2 separate regions of the Homo sapiens genome follow, and region 2 is linked to region 1. The links come from fine-mapping of genetic effects on gene expression. A gene starts in region 1. The other region holds a variant in brackets. All regions are shown on one strand. Distances are between the middles of the regions.

Region 1 (8,468 bases):
CTAAAGGTCTAACACTCTCTTACTGATGTGCCCCACAGCTCCTCATAGTGTGAGTCTTCCCTCCTTGCAACAAGTAATAAACCCAGCTTGTTTAACTACAGGTGTGTTTCTGGTGGTCTTTATTGGAGGAATTCACAACTGTAAAAGTGAAAAAGGATGATTACATTTCTTGGGGGAAGGCTGGGCGTGGTGGCTCATGCCTGTAATCCCAGCACTTTGAGGGGCTGAGGCAGGTGGATCACCTGAGGTCAGGCATTCGAGACCAGCCTGACCAACATGGTGAAACCCCTTCTCTACTAAAAATACAAAAATTAGCCGGGTGTGGTGGCAGGCACCTGTAGTCCCAGCTACTCGGGAGGCTGAAGTGGGAGAATTGCTTGAACCCGGGAGGGAGAGGTTGCAGTGAACCAACATCGCGCCACTGCACTCCAGCCTGGGCAACAACAGCCAAACTCCCTCTCAAAACAAAACAAACAAAGTTTCTGGGGGAGGTTAAGGGAGTTTCATTCTAAGGGTTCCCATTTTCCATGTTGAGCAATAGCTGATATTATCTTGAGAATGAAAAAGGAGTGGGGTAAATCAGAAGTCTGAAGAAAGGGGAAAATGTCTGAATTAAGTATCCGGAGAAAGGGAGAGTGAGTTGATCTGAGAAACAAACTAGGATAGTCAGGTTCTGTTAAGGGCACAGTTGAGGTTGGCTGACATGATCGTAGCGGCACCAAGCCACCCTACTGTGTGATTTCTAGCACCTGTATTCAAGGCAAAAATGGATAGTTTGGTTAAACCAGCATTTTGGGTCTACTAAGACCAAAGGGCAAGGAAGATAAATGCACTGTCAACAGAATTACCGAGGGATGAAGGATGAACTCTAAGTAATCAATTAAGAGGTAACAGCAGAGGGAACATCTAAAAGACAGAGAGAACCACTGAGGTGCTAAGAAGAAATGGGCACAGCATGGGAAATAGAAAATAACTGGTCAAGCAACTTGGAAAAAAGGGGTCAGAGCTGGAGAGTGTTGCACTCTCATCTGTGAGGCAGTGCAGCATCAGGATAAAAGCACAGGGTGTCACGGTGGGAATGGGTGACAGAATCAGATAGGAAGAGGTGATCACTGCAGACCAGGTGTTCAAGAAAGTGAGTGCCTCGTGCATAGGCTCCATGTGGATGCTGAGGTCACCTAAGGTGAAGTCATGAACTGAGGTAGAGGACACTCTGGGCCAGGCACCCCAGTCTTCCATGAATGAGGTGAATGATCAGGAGAGCTGAACAACAGCAATCAGGAGGGCTCCAGTTGGGCAGGAAGGCTCTCCATGGAATGAGACGCGGGAGACACACAGGAGGACACAAAGCTCAAATCCCTGATCCTGAGATACACAGGGCATGAGAAGGAGGAGGAGCCACGGGAGAGGGCTTCAAGAACAGGATATCCCTGAGGAAAGGTCAGGGTGAAGGCAAAGGGAGGGAGGGAATGGCTAAGGAGAGGCTAACAAAATAGAAGCTGATGTTGATTATCAGGTGGTAACTGCAGAGGACATAGTGAGGGGTTGGTGGGATGGTTGGGTCACAGGTAAACAAAAGAGGGGAGAACAGACTCAGTGGCATAGCATGATGGACATCATAAGGAGAGCAGAGAAGGGAAGGAGAGTGGGCTACCATGAAAAGTGCTCAATTGATACCTATTGAGTCAAATGGAGTTAGTGTAAACCTAATATATCCAACCAGAAAACTTCTGATACCACAAGTCCAGGATCACAATGATGATAATGATTTGATGACAATGAGGGGGGTGGTGATGACTGTTAACTACCAATTCTGAACACCTCCAGTATGCCAAGCACTGCTGCAAGCACTCCACATTTCACCTGCACAGCAATCCTCTGAGACAGATAACATCCTACTTATCCGCAGAAGGACTCTATACCAAAGGAAGAAGCAAACTAAACAGAAGTAAAAGATTTACAGGTACCCAGAAGGCTGACTGGCTTTTTATTTTATAGCCATAACTCACTCAGGGCAGCAGGAACCACCCTAACTCATAGCTACTGCACATTCAGCAACTTTAACTAAACAATATTCAGCCTGGAGGGAAGTCAAAACTAGCAATAATAATTTACTGAGGGCTTCACTTTGTGTCAGATCCTCTGCATCGATAATCTCATTTAATCCTGACACCCATAAAGGTTACCTTTATTATCACTGTTTTAAAAATGAAAAGACTAGGCTGGGTGGGGTGGCTCATGCCTGTAATCCCAGCACTTTGGGAGACCAAGGCGAGCGGATCACTTGAGTTCAGGAGTTCGAAACTAGCCTGGCCAACGTGGTGAAGCCCTGTCTCCACTAAAAATGCAAAAATTAGCTGGGCATGGTGGTGTGTGCCTGTGATCCCAGCTACTTGGAAGGTTGAGGCAGGAGAATCACTTGAACCCGGCAGGTGGAAGTTACCAGGAGCCAAGACAGCTGTGGCCAATAGCAACTGAAAGCCACAGAAGAAAAAGCTGAGTATAATCCACTCAAATTCACAAATTTCATAAGGGACTCTCTCTAAGACTTTAATACTTGTGTATTTATTAATTTAATCAATCACCACTTACATGGACTACATGCCAGACACTGCTCCAAGTGCTCTACTAATATTAAATATCATTTTTGTCCACACCCACCTATGATGCGTTATTATACTCCCCATTTTACAGATCAGGAAACTGAGCCACAGAAAAGTTTAGTAATTTCCCCGACTTTATACTGCCAGTAAGTGGCAACGCTCAGTTTGACAGAGTCTAGCTCCAGAATCCATGCTCTGAAAGTTTAGTCCCCAAGAACCTATAAAAAGTGCAAGGTTTAATCCAACACACTGGTTTTCCCCACTCTACAATCACTACGTGGCCTCAGCCTCCTTCTCCCACCTTTAAAGCATTTTTTGAGTTCCTCTAACAGTTCACACTCCTCTGAACACTCTCCTACAACTTTCCTATTTTTCAAGCCTTTTCTTCTCACTTTTTTTTTTTTTTTTTTTTGAGACATAGTCTCGCACTCTCATCCAGGTTGGAGTGCAATAGCGTGATCTTGGCTCACTGCAACCTCTGCCTCCCGGGTTCAAATGATTCTCCGGCCTCAGCCTCCCGAGTAGCTGGGATTACAGGCGCCCGCCACCACACCCAGCTAATATTTGTATTTTTAGTAGAGATGGGGTTTCACCATGTTGGCCAGGATGGTCTCGAACTCCTGACCTCGTGATCTGCCCACCTCGGCCTCCCAAAGTGCTGGGATTACAGGCGTGAACCACCGCGCCCAAACTCTTCTCACCTTAAACATCACTGACAAAATTACAAACTCTAATGGCACTGCCGTATTTGTCAGCACTCAACACAAAAAAATCATAATTATATATTTCATAGGTAATTATTTGCTTCCTGTCTCTCTTTTCCAACAAAGCTGTGAGTTCCAGTATGTCTGACACCATGTCTGTCTTGTTCTTGGTGTATTTCCACCATCGAATTCCTACTAACCACTGCAAAGTAAAGGCCTGGCACAAAGTAAGGTCTCAAAAAATTTTGTTGAATGAAAGAATAAATGGTGGACATTCAAGCCTCAAGCTTTCTCTTTCTCTGACACGTACCTCTGCTGGCTACGCCCCCATCCCCACCACCACACCCTTAACAGTGGAGACTTAGTGCGGTACTGGCTCTGCAAAGAGATATTACTTGGCTCTGGGTGGGTTATTTCCCCTCGTCATCCTGAGTTTCAGGTGCACAACAGGGATCACACCAACCCCCTAAAGAATGCAACCTACAAAAGAGAGAGAACCTACACCTCTCATCCTCGTAACCCATCGAGGCTGGAGCTACTATTTGCTTCATGTCTGTCTTTCCAGCAGCGTTTAGCTCCAAGAAGCCCAAGGCCTCGTCTGTCTGGCTCAGGGGCCTGCTCCCATCGACGATACCCAGGCTGGCCCCCTGCCTGGCTCACAGCAAAAGCTCAGAAACGATTCGTTAAATAAATGAAGCCCTGCTCCGTGCACTTCACAGGTGGGAAGCGAGGGTCGTGCGAGGCGGGGGCTGCATCCCTGCCAGCCTTGAGCGTATTCTTCAGATGCAGGCCCACCTCCCACCTAGGCCCGCGCCCCAGATGCCGGCCCCGAACCCCGCGCCCGACAGGCACCTCTTGCACAGGGAAGCATCTTCGCAGGTGCCGCGCACGCCCTCGTCGTCTGCGTCGCAGCTCGAGGTGGAACAGCAGGAGGTGATAGAGGATTCCCTCTGCCTAGTGGCCATGGGCGTGGAGGTTCCTGGGAGCTGTGTCCGCCAGGGACATGGAAGCGGGGTCGACGGGCGGCGGGGGACGGCGCGAGCCACAGGGAGAAAGCAACAGAAGAGGGTAGGGCCCTACCTGGCTCAGCTGGCGCGGCTCAGTGACGCCGCCCACGCCGGCTACCCCAGCAACCTCTCCGCTTATTGGCTCCTCTTCCGAGTCGCTCATTGAGCAATTCTCCTGCCCGCTCAGCCTACGAAGTTGCTCATTGGATAATTATTTTGGCACCGCCCACATAACCCGGAAATTTGACGATAGGAAAAAGAAACTAAACAGTAGGAGAGTATCGCAATCCTTTCTGGGAAGCGTAGTCTTAGGTGTCTGGAGAAGTCGCCCGGTTTCTGCTTGCTGGTCGCGAAATTTTATAGCTATAATTAACTCAGGGCGGAACAGCTAGCAGAATCCTCAGCGTTCGGGCAAAGGGCAGAGAATCCAGCCAGAAGCAACATGTGTAAGTTGTTACATTCAGTCCGGGCTCAGTGTCATTCAATTTTACAAAATTTTGTTGTGTGCTGACTCTGCCAGCGACTGTGCTGAGGGCTTTGCCCCCAAAATTGCCTTCGAAATGTAGTGAGGGGGGCGGGCGTAGTGGCTCACTCCTGTAATCCCACCACTGTGGGAAGCCGAGGCGGGCCGATCACCTGAGGTCAGGAGTTCGAGACCAGCCTGGCCAACATGGTGAAACACCGTTGTTACTAAAAGTACAAAAATTAGCCGGGCGTGGTGGCGGCCGCCTTAGTCCTGGCTACTCAGGAGGCTGAGGCAGGAGAATCGCTTGAACCCGGGAGGCGGAGGTTGCAGTAAGCCCATGTGGCGCCACTGCATTCCGTCCTGAGCGACAGAGCGAGACTCCGTCTCAAAAAAATAAATAAACAAATAAATAAAAGAAAGAAAGAAAAGAAATGTAGTGAGGGAAGTAGTGTGTGGAAAAGTAATACAATAGGAAGCCATGTAGCAGCGATCATAAATGAACTAGAGCTACCAGGTAGCAGCATCAATGGCTGAATCTCAGAAACACGATGTTCAGTGAAAGAAGGAAGTCTAACAACACTTTTGTAAAGTTCAAACCAAGTAAAACTAATGTTGTTTAGAGAAACGTACATATATGGTAAAATACTGTACAGAGAAGGCAAGACATGAGAAAAAAAAATAAAAAAGAATCAGGATATTGGTGATCTTTAGGGAGCCGGGAGGGTAGCACACAAGAGGGGGAGGGAGAGGCAGGGAAGGAGCACATAGACACATCCTCAGTTTCTCACGTGGGAGTGGGTTCACGTGTGTCTGTTTCATTATGAGGCATATTCAAGATGTTTTGGATTTATTTTGTACTAAATCTAGTACAAAATATATGTATAAATTCAAGATGTACTGGGGAAGTCGCCTGGTTTCTTGCTGGTGATGAAATTTTATAGCTATAATTAACTCAGGGCAGAACAACTAGCAGAATCCTCAGTGTTCGGGCGATTGGCAGAGAATCCAGCCAGAAGCAACCCTTGTAAGTTGTATATGTATAATAATGTTTAATATACATTATAAATTAAAAATGTCTTTGTATATTCCATTTTGTTATCTGTCAGTTGTTGGAAGCAGGAAACAGATATACTTTAAGAACTTTGAATTGCACTCATTTTTTTAAAAAGAAAATCAACAACAGAAACCCAGAATACACACCTTGGAGTGAGGTCAAATATCAAATGCTAGCTCAGTATTCTAATGGAGGCACAAGATCTCATTGATAGCCACAGTAGAAATGACAAGAGGGGAATGACTAAGGGTGGAGAGCTTTGCCAGGGGGAATGCTGATGGGATGAAATACACCATTTTCTTGGAGTGGTCCTTTGCCAAAAGGGTAATACAAACTATTGCACAAGCATCATCTCCCAGCTTAGCAGTGTCCACATTCCACGGGTGTTAGTGGATAGTAAGTGTTAACAGCAAGTACTATACGGTGTTAATCCCACAGGTCTGGACAGTGAGACTGGGGGTGACTGGAAGAAGGCGGAGGCAGATGGGTTTATACACTTTTGTTGTTGGATGAGCCTTTGATTCAAAATAGCTGGTGATTCAGAGGAATTTGGCCATCTTCCAGCTGACCTCCAGGGCCAGCTCATTCCATGTAAGTTCCTGGTTGAGGATCTGAAAGTTTATGACAGCGTGGAGTCTGGAGATTGCAAGCTTAGCCATCTCAGGCTAAATGATACCTTAATGCAAGAGACAATGCTGGGGTAGTCTTTGAGCCATATCCCAGCCAGAGAAAGTTCACTGCCAACTAGACTGCATCTTTTGACAAAGTCAGGAGAAGAGTTGTGGAAGTGTAAAAGCTCTTGGACATTAATATTGTGGGCCAAAAGTTAGGCATTCACCATGGAATCTCTCCCCAAAAGGCTACAATGGACAATTGTTGCTTTGGCTCTCCAGTATCTCTTTCTTCTATAAAAAATAGCTAGAGTGGGCTGGGCGCGGTGGCTCACACCTGTAATCCCAGCACTTTGGGAGTCCGAGGTGGGTGGATCACCTGAGGTCAAGAGTTTGAGATCAGCCTGGCCAACATGGTGAAACCTCGTCTCTACTAAAAATACAAAAATTAGCCAGGCATGGTGGCAGGCGCCTATAATCTCAGCTACTAGGGAGGTTGAGGCAGGAGAATCACTTGAACCCGGGAGGTGGAGGTTGCAGTGAGCTGAGATCGTGCCATTGAACTCCAGCTTAGGGGACAAGAGCAAAACTCCGTCTCAAAAAACAAACAAAAAGCTGGCATGGTGGCTCATGCCTGTAATCCCAGTACTTTGGGAGGCCGGGGCAAGTGGATCACCTGAGGTCAGAAGTTCGAGACCAGCCTGACCAACATGGTGAAACCCCATCTCTACTAAAAATAAAAATTAGCCAGGCATGATGGCGCATGCCTGTAATCCCAGCTACTCCGGAGGCTGAGGCAGGAGAATTGCCTGAACCCTGAAGGCAGGGGTTGTGGTGAGCCGAGATTGCGCTATTGTACTCCAGCCTGGGCAACAAGAGCGAAACTGTCTCCAAAAAAAAAAAAAAAAAGCTACAGCTTCTTATGGAAAACTAAGCTTCTCTCCTGGCCAGGCGTGGTGGCTCACACCTGTAATCCCAGTCACCGAGGCGGGATTTGGGAGGCCGAGGCGGGTGGATCATGAGGTCAGGAGTTCAAGACCAGCCTGGCCAACATGGTGAAACTCCATCTCTACTAAAAACACAAAAAATGGCTGGGCATGGTGGTGCGCGCCTGTAGTCCCAGCTACTCAGGAGGCTGAGGCAGAAGAATCGCTTAAACCCAGGAGGCAGAGGTTGCAGTGAGCCGAGATCGTGCCACTGCACTCCAACCTAGGCAACAAGAGCGAAAGTCTGTCTCGAAAAAAAGAAAAAGAAAAAGAAAAAAAAGCAAGGCTCCTTGCCTGACTCTAGGGGTGGAAACTTGCCAAGGTCTGGCCAATTGGCACCCAAAATCACCTTGTCATGCTTCAGAGGGTGGTGGGGATTGGGGGAAGGGCTAACCAGGTTGTTCCAATCAGAATGAATCCCAGGAGTTGAATGGAAGTTGCTCAGTTTATTAGCAGAGCTCTCTTTTTTGCCACACTTGAACTTGGTAGGTGCCATCAGGTGTGGCCTGTGTGTCCGCCACGTGGTCTCTGAGGCTCCCACCTGGGGGCAGCAGCAACACAACATCCTAACCAGTGGGTGCTTGAGTTCTACTCACTGATGTTCAGATTAGAACTCTTTGGTCACTGCGTCTAGCCTTGTGACCATCACTAGCTGCTTGGGACAGCCATAGAGACACTGTTAGGAAAGTGTGCCCCCAGCACAGTCATGGGAACAATCCTTTATGTTGTTTGTGGCAAGGAAGGAGACCATCACCCATCACCCCAGGAAGATTTAGGAATGGCTCCCTGCCTGTGTCCTAACAGTAATTGTTCTAGCAAGGGTAGTGATGTTTCCTGTGGCACTGTTGCGCTGCTGCTGCTCTCTGTTCTTCTGACCCCTAAGAAATGCACATCCCTGGCAGTCAGTGGCCTAGTCACTGATGATGAAAAAAATAAAATGGACAGGGAATGGCATTTGTTGTTCAACTTCTCTCTCGATGGAAAACCCCAAACTGACAACCCTGGGCTTTGCTTCGCAGTGTTGCTTGCATATTTGG
Region 2 (8,000 bases), 59 kb before region 1:
AGGGAAAGAATAGGAAAAAGAAAAGTTCACTATTTCCAGGTCAAGGCAAGAAAAGTACAATCACGCACCAAGCTCATTTCCTCCTTTGGTTGCCCAGCAAAGGCAGTAATGCCGCATGAGCTGCTCCAGCAGCTCCATTTCATCCAGGAATTCAAGTGATTCTATCCTGTGGAAAGAATTAAAATAGAACGATGCAAGTGTCTGCATTGAAAATGAAGATCATGGCCCATAGCTACGGATATGAAAAAATGTTTATGATAGATTAAGTGGAAAGAAGGCGGCTATAAAATAGTAATTATGGTGTGGCTCCATTTTAATGTCTTTTCACTGAAAAGAAGAAAAAATACCATAAACAAAGTCAAAATACAAATGCCAAACTAGAAACATATATTTGCAATTCAAGTGGCAAAGGGCTGAGTTCCTTATTATATAAAGAGCTGTTAAACTTCAGTAAGAAAAACTAGTGGCAACTGGAGGAGACAGGCAGAGTAAATTGAAGCAGATTCATACTGTCAAAACAGGACACTATGCAGCCATTTTTAAAAATGGGGTAGGTCCATACGTATTAATATGCAATAACCTCCAAGACATATATATCATGGAATTTAAAAAGCAAGTTGCGTAATTTAAAAAGCAAGTAATGTGCATATTACACCACTCTCTATGTAAAGAAAAAGTGAGACAAATTTGTCTGTATATGTACAGACTTTTGGAAAATACAGAAGAAACTAGAAATGGTAGTTGTCTCTTAAGAGAGAAGGTAGTAGACCAGTAGTGAGGAGGGTTGTTTTTACTCTATACTACTTCATTTTGGTTTTGTAAAAAATTATATGCATGTATGACTTTTCCCAAAAAGCCTTTTAAATGTAAACTTTTAAACATACATACACAGGTTGGGTGAAGTGCCTCACGCCTGTAATCCCAGCACTTTGGGAGGCCATGGTGGGTGGATCTCCTGAGGTCAGGAGTTCGAGACCAGCCTGGCCAACATGGTGAAACCCCATCTCTATTAAAAATACAAAAATTAGCCTGGCATGGTGGTGCCCACCTGTAGTCACAGCTATTTGGGAGGCTGAGGCAGGAGAATTGCTTGAACCTGGAAGGCGGAGGTTGCAGTAAGCAGAGATCGCGCCACTGTACTCCAGCCTTGGTGACAGAGCGAGACTCGGTCTCAAAAAAATAAAAATAAATAACTATATACACACACAGAGAAACATGCACAAACATATGGAAATAGCGTTTTAAAAAAGTTTCTGTTTGCCAGGAGCAGTGGCTCACGCCTCTAATGCCAGAGCTTTGGGAGGCCAAGGTGGGAGAATCACTTGAGGCCCAGAGTTTGAGACCAGCCTAGGCAACATAGCAAGACTCCATCTCTATCAAAAAAAAACAAAAAAAAAGTTTCTGTCAAAATAGGTACACACTATGGAGGAAAAGTCCGGCATTTTCAAAAAGTATACAGAATAAAATAAAAAAAGAAACAGGATCCATATTCCTACTATTCACAATAGCCACTGCTAACATATGAATCCTGCCAGTTGCCCAGGCCTTGTCTGTTATATGTGTGCACGTACACCCAGGTGTGAACACGTGTGTGTCTGTGCATGTTTCTGTATTTGTGAGTTCATTCCCGTCTTGGTATGCAGGCTTCAGGACCAAATCTGAAGTAAGAATGCCTACACATAAAGTAATGTGGTTGTTTCCCAAGTCATTCTACCAGGAGACATCCAAAGCAGATCTGATACCAAGTTCTAGAAAAATCCAGTACCATACTGAAGGCTCCAGGATGGTTATTACCAAGAACAGCTATCAGGAGACACTACTAATTATTAAGCTGTTCACTAGAATGAGCACTCCCAAGGGCAGGAATGTCTTTTGTCCTGTTTTGATCATTGCTGTATCTCTGGTGCTTAGAAAAGTGCCGGGCACACAGCAGACACTCAACTCAGCATTTGTTCAATGAACAGGCTCGCCTTAGACTTCCTATTATACTCTACAGTTTCCGGCAAAAGCAGATACAAACTACGTGGCATTCACAGAGCTGGAAAGGCTGTTCGACCTGGCATAGACAAAGGCCTTCCAATCTCCTTACCCGCCTCCCCCGTGAGGGTTACACGCTGCTATCTACAGAAGGTCCTGGAAACATGAGACAAATGACTGCCTGGAGGCAAGAGACTTTCCTTGTGGTTGATGCTAGTCAGAGGCTCCTTTCTGGGCATCTAGAAGCAGTGCCAGAGCATCCCCATTTCAGGGGCCAGATCAGGGATGTTCAAAACAGTCGTCTTGACATGTAGCAAATGAAAACCAGCCTGTGGGGAAGGATGCTTCTGGAAGAATCCAGGAAGCATTGACCTGATCACGTGGAGACAGCACTTTCTCAAACCCTCTAGGCTTTCATTGCCAATTATTCATGTACATATTTGGGAAAAACAGTGATATGCCTAAATGTTAATAAGTTATATGGAAAAGCAAAGCCAAAATTCTTCTCATGATCTTGTAAGAGACCAAAGGCTATTGATCTTAGGTCTCCAAAGGCAAGAAGGAAGCATGAATCAGGAAGCACAGAGTGATTACAAAAAAAAGAGCTGAAGTGCGCACTAGCGCTGTACACAGATGCACGTTGGTGATGTTCTCTCCAGTGTTGTTTATAACAGGCAAATGAAAACATGATGAATAAACAAGACACCGCAACTAAATGCCCAGCTACAGACATTTTTAATTACTTAAAAATTATCATCAATATACTGTATCTGCGTAAATCAATATAAATACTATGTACCCTATTTTTTTTTTTTTTGAGACAGAGTTTCGCTCTTGTTGCCCAGGCCAGAGTACAAATGGTGCTACCTCGGCTCACTGCAACCTCCGCCTCCCAGGTTCAAGCAATTCTTCTGCCTCAGCCTCCCAAGTAACTGGGATTACAGGCGCCCGCCACCATGCCCAGCTAATTTTTTGTATTTTTAGTAGAGACAGGGTTTCACCATGTTGGCCAGGCTGGTATCGAACTCCTAACCTCAGGTGATCCACCTGCCTTGGGCTCCCAAAGTGCTGGGATTACAGGTGTGAGCCACCGCACCTGGCCCTATGTACCCTTAAATGGGATATGGCAACCCTCAATATTTTGATATGTAAAGGCAAATACAATCTATTGTTTTCAAAAAGGATGGTGGTTTACAGACCAGTATGTGTAGTATGAATCCACAGATTCAAAAAATAGAAATCTATGTATCAATAAATATTTATCTATCTATGTAGGAAAAGAATATTCCCCAATATGTTAAGAACTGCTACCTCCCAGGTGTGACTACAGAATGGACAACTACTTTATACTTCATGCACTTTAGAATGCTTGAGGAACTTTTTAGAACAAGAAGCATAGATTTCCTTTATAATGGGGAGAAAAGTCCATTTAAAAACCCGCCAGCCCCTTATACGTCCTTGAACAACGTCGTTTTCCTCCCTCTCCAAAGCAGGGATTATGTAAAATTTCCACTGCCAAGGTTGCTCTGGGAGTTTTCCAGGTGTCATTGCTTGTTTTCACTAAAATAATCAGTTTGGGCATAAGCCCTATCTCAGCTAATAGCTAATGAGTTACTTTCAAGCTGCTATCAGTGTTTAACTTGTTTCAAAATAGGTCTAGTTAGGGTCTTGTTTTTTGGGGTTTTTTTTTGTTTGTTTGTTTGTTTGTTTTTTTGAGAAGCAGTCTTGCTCTGTCGCACAGGCTGGATACAATTGCACATCTCAGCTCACTGCAACCTCCGCCTCTTGGATTCAAGTAATTCTCCTGCTTCAGCCTCCCTAGTAGCTGGGATTACAGATGTGTGCCACCACACCCGGCTAATTTTTGTATTTTTATTTATTTTTGGAGACAAGAGTTTTGCTCTTTTGCCCAGGCTGGAGTGAAGCGGCACGATCTCAGCTCACTGCAACCTCTGCCCCCGCCCCAGGTTTAAGTGATTCTCCCGGCTCAGCCTCCCAAGTAGTTGGCATTATAAATGTGCACCACCCTACCTGGCTAATTTTTGCATTTTTAGTAGAGACAAGGTTTCACCATGTTGGCCAGGCCGGTCTCGAACTCCTGACCTGACCTCAAGTGATCTGCCCGCCTATGCCTCCCAAAGTGCTGGGATTACAGGTGTGAGCCACCGTGCCTGGCCTTGTTTTTTATTTGTTTGTTTGTTTTTTGTTTTTTAATGAAATCTCCACATATTGTTCTGTTTTTCTGCATGAAAGAATACAGGCAATCATGCCTTGAGTTCACAATGAATGCCCATCAAGCTGACGCTCACCAACCCCATACCTGCTCACTTCAGCTCGAGGTAACCTGTTGTACAACTCCATCATGTCGACGGCCGATGCTGTTTCCCACCCATTCGACAGGAGCCGTTCTTTCT[A/G]AAATGTGCAACGAAGAGAAATGGAGAACTAGAGAACTACCAGGCACCGGCTTACAAATCTAAGACACTGTTTTGTTTTAAAGAGACAAGGTCTCATTCTGTTGCCCAGGCTGAAGTGCAGTGGTGTGATCACAGCTCACTGCAGCCTTGACCCACCGGGCTCAAGCGATCCTCCCCGCTCTGCCACCCAAGGTGCTGGGATGAGAGGTGTGAGCCAGTGTGCTTGGTACTGAAATGCTCTTAAGCACACCAGACCTCCTCTGAGACGACTCCTTTCTCAAAAGCCCATCCTAGACCCTAACACCTTTTTTTAACTTTCCAACTTTCCATATTGAACAAGCATTGTTATAATGGGGGGAAGTTCACTAAAGTACTTCCAAAGAGAAATAAAGGAAGAACTTTTCTATGAGTGACAGTTTTTTAAAGCACTCTAATTGTTATGTGACAAAAGATATGTAAAAATGAACCTATTTATTTATTTAATTTTTTTTTGAGACGGAGGCTCACTCTGTTGCCCAGGCTGGAGTACAGTAGTTTGATTTTGGCTCACTGCAACCTCCATCTCCCAGGTTCAAGCAAATCTCCTGCCTCAGTCTCCCAAGTAGCTGGGATTACAGGTGTGCACCACCACACCCGGCTAATTTTTGTATTTTTAGTAGAGATGGGGTTTCACCATGTTGGCCAGGCTAGTGTCGAACTCCTGAACTCAGGTGATCCGCCCGCCTCAGCATCCCAAAGTGCTGGGATTATAGGTGTGAGCCACCGCGCCCGCCCAAAAAAATGAACCTACTTATATGGGGGCGGGGTGGGAGGTGTTATGAGAAAAAATAGATGACTTTTTTAAAGGGAGGGGGCATTAACATAGAGTCAAAGAGGTTTAAGGGACATATCAATCATCTGCAAAGTGTGGACAATGTTTAAATCCTGATTCAAACACATCAACTATAAAAAAAAGGTTTTTTAAACAACTGGGGAAACTGAACATGAACTGGGCATTAAATGCTATGAAGGAGTTGTCAACTTGTATGATCTGTGAAATGGTATTATCATCATCCTGGGAGAAGAAAGTCCTTATTGGAAGGTGATTCACATGTGTATTTAGGGGTGAAATCATGTGCTGTCTGGGATTTGCCTGAAAATATTCCAACATCTACAAAAAAATTGTGGGGGAATATAGGAAATAACACTGATAATATAAGAAATACTGAAGTTAGGTGATGAGACGTGTGTGTTTATTTCACCATTCCCTCTACCTTTATGTTTGTTTGAAAATTTGCGTAATACAAAGTCAAAATAATAGGGTGTAGGAAATGTGATGGTGAAGCAGGACTTGGTCTTCCCAGCATCATGAACTAGCGGCCCACATGGAGGCTCAGCAGCCTGTGCTGCTGACAGGCACTGAACAGGGCTTCTCCATGATCACATCTGCAAAGAAAGACCTTTATATATCTTGGTTGACTAAGGGTCCAAATGGATATCCCAGTCCCTGCTCTCTGACCTGTGACTCTAATGACTTGCAGGTCTCCACTCCCGCCAGGTCACACTGGCGTCTCCGCAGGTTTTCAATCATGATCTGCCCAAACCGATCACCCATGTTCACCTAGGAGGGAAAGAGAAGGTAAGATATTACTCTAAGGGTTTCCTAAATATGCAAAATAAAACATCATTCATCCTATTTTTAAGCAGCCGAGGCTGACGCTTGATGACGCACACCCAGCATAGGAAACGGACTGAGGGGCGGGCACCAGCACGGTGCTGGCGGGAGCATAAACTTGGGTAGCCCTGGAAGGGAAACTGGGCAGGATACAACCATTTTAAATGCTCAACTTGTGATCCACCAATTCCACCAAAAGCAATCTATCCTACAGACACACTCCCACATGTATGCTAAGATGCAAGAATGTTTATCACAGCATTAGGTATAATAGGAAGAATCTGGAAATAACTCCTGGCATGTTTGTATAATGAAATTATATATAGCCATGAAAACAGAGAAGACAGATATAGACATGAAATGACCTCTAGGGTAAACTCTTGAAAAGTGAAGTACAGAGGAATATGGATAGTATGAGCCCATCTGTCTTCAAGGAAAAAAAGAATCTCTCTATGTACATAGAAAAATTCTGGAATGTGGCAGCCTTGCTTCCCAGATTAGAGGACCAAAGTCTGGGGCAGGAGAGAGATTTACTTTTCCTTGTCTACCCTGTTCTATTTTTAATTTTTGTACTCTACATATGGTATTACTTTTTAAATTACAAAAACTAATCTAAAAAACCCAAAATTATATATGAAAAAGGCCAGGAAACAATATTAGTGTACACCATTGTAGTATATACACTATTGCTTTTTCAAAAACTCACTTTAGGCCAGGCATGGTGGCCATGTCTGTAATCTCAGCACTTTGGGAGGCTGAGGCAGGTGGATCACTTGAGGCCAGGAATTCAATACCAGCCTGGCCAACATGGTGAAACTCCATCCCCACTAAAAATACAAAAATCAGCCAGGCGCAGTGGCACGTGCCTGTTATCCCAGCTACTCAGGAGGCTGAGGCGGGAGAATCACTTGAACCCAGGAGGCAGAGGCTGCAGTGAGCTGAGATTGCGCAACTGCACTCCAGCCTGGATGACAGAGCGAGACTCTGTCTCAAAAAAAAAAGGCTGGGTGCGGTAGCTCACGCCTATAATCCCAGCACTTTGGGAGGCCGAGGTGGGCGGATCACTTGAGGTCAGGAGTTTGAGACCAGCCTGGCCAACATGAAACCCTGTCTCTATTAAAAATACAAAATTAGCTAGGAATAGTGGCACACGCCTGTAATCCCAGTTACTCAGGAGGCTGAGGCAGGAGAATCTCTTGAACCTGGGAGGTGGAGGTTGCAATGAGCCAAGATCGTGCCACTGCACTCCAGCCTGGGTGACAGAGTAAGACTCCATCTCAAAACATAAATAAATAAATAAATAAGTTAATATATGTAAAATTCATAGAATAGTCCCTGCTATATAGTAAGCAAAATCTAAGAATTTGCTACCACTGCTTTAGAATTATTATTGAAATTATTATCATCCATGTAGTTTTGTCATCTTAAACTACTAATTAGGCAACAAGCTGAGCATGGTGGCTGATGCCTGCAGTCCCAGGGCTTTGGGAGACTGGGGTTGGAGAACTGCTTGAGGCCAGGAGTTTGAGACCAGCCTGGACAACATAGCAAGACCCTGTCTCTACCAAAAAAATAAAGTCAAGAGTGGTGGTGTGCACCTACAGTCCTAACTAATGGGAGACTAAGGTGGGAGGATCACTTGAACCTGGGAGCTCAAGACTGCAGTGAGCTATGACGGCACCACTGTACTCCAGCCTGGGCGACAGAACGAGACCCTGTCTCTAAAAAAAAAAAAGACCAAAAAAAAGGAAAAGCAAACAATGTAAAGCATGTGAGCAATTAATACATGGTTTGTGAGGGTGCTGGTCATTTTGCGTTTGTTAGGAAACCACTGAATTAACTTAAATGTTCATTATTCACCAGGTGAGGGTGGTGGGTGGGAGCAGAACCAGTCTAGGGACAGCTATGGACAACGTTTTGAAAACTGGCACATTCCCAGGCTTGCTCCAAAGTGA

Evidence for each region.
Region 2: its variant is fine-mapped to the expression of LCMT1 in whole blood (TOPMed, PIP above 0.99).

What each region holds. Positions count from the first base shown.
Region 1 is chr16:25,107,688-25,116,155 of GRCh38, reverse strand. LCMT1 (leucine carboxyl methyltransferase 1) reads right to left here and starts at 4,414. Exons shown (of 11, transcript NM_016309.3): 1 at 4,160-4,414. The coding sequence starts at 4,272. It overlaps LCMT1-AS1 (LCMT1 antisense RNA 1), which reads left to right and starts at 4,601. Exons shown (of 3, transcript NR_120306.1): 1 at 4,601-4,760. RefSeq lists enhancers at 4,107-4,266, 4,357-4,686, 4,464-4,991.
Region 2 is chr16:25,167,103-25,175,102 of GRCh38, reverse strand. LCMT1 (leucine carboxyl methyltransferase 1) reads right to left here. Exons shown (of 11, transcript NM_016309.3): 8 at 5,890-5,991; 9 at 4,298-4,389; 10 at 69-166. Among named protein-coding and RNA genes, the nearest start is that of LCMT1-AS2, 22 kb to the right of the region's middle. The variant A/G (reference allele first, on the strand shown) is at 4,392.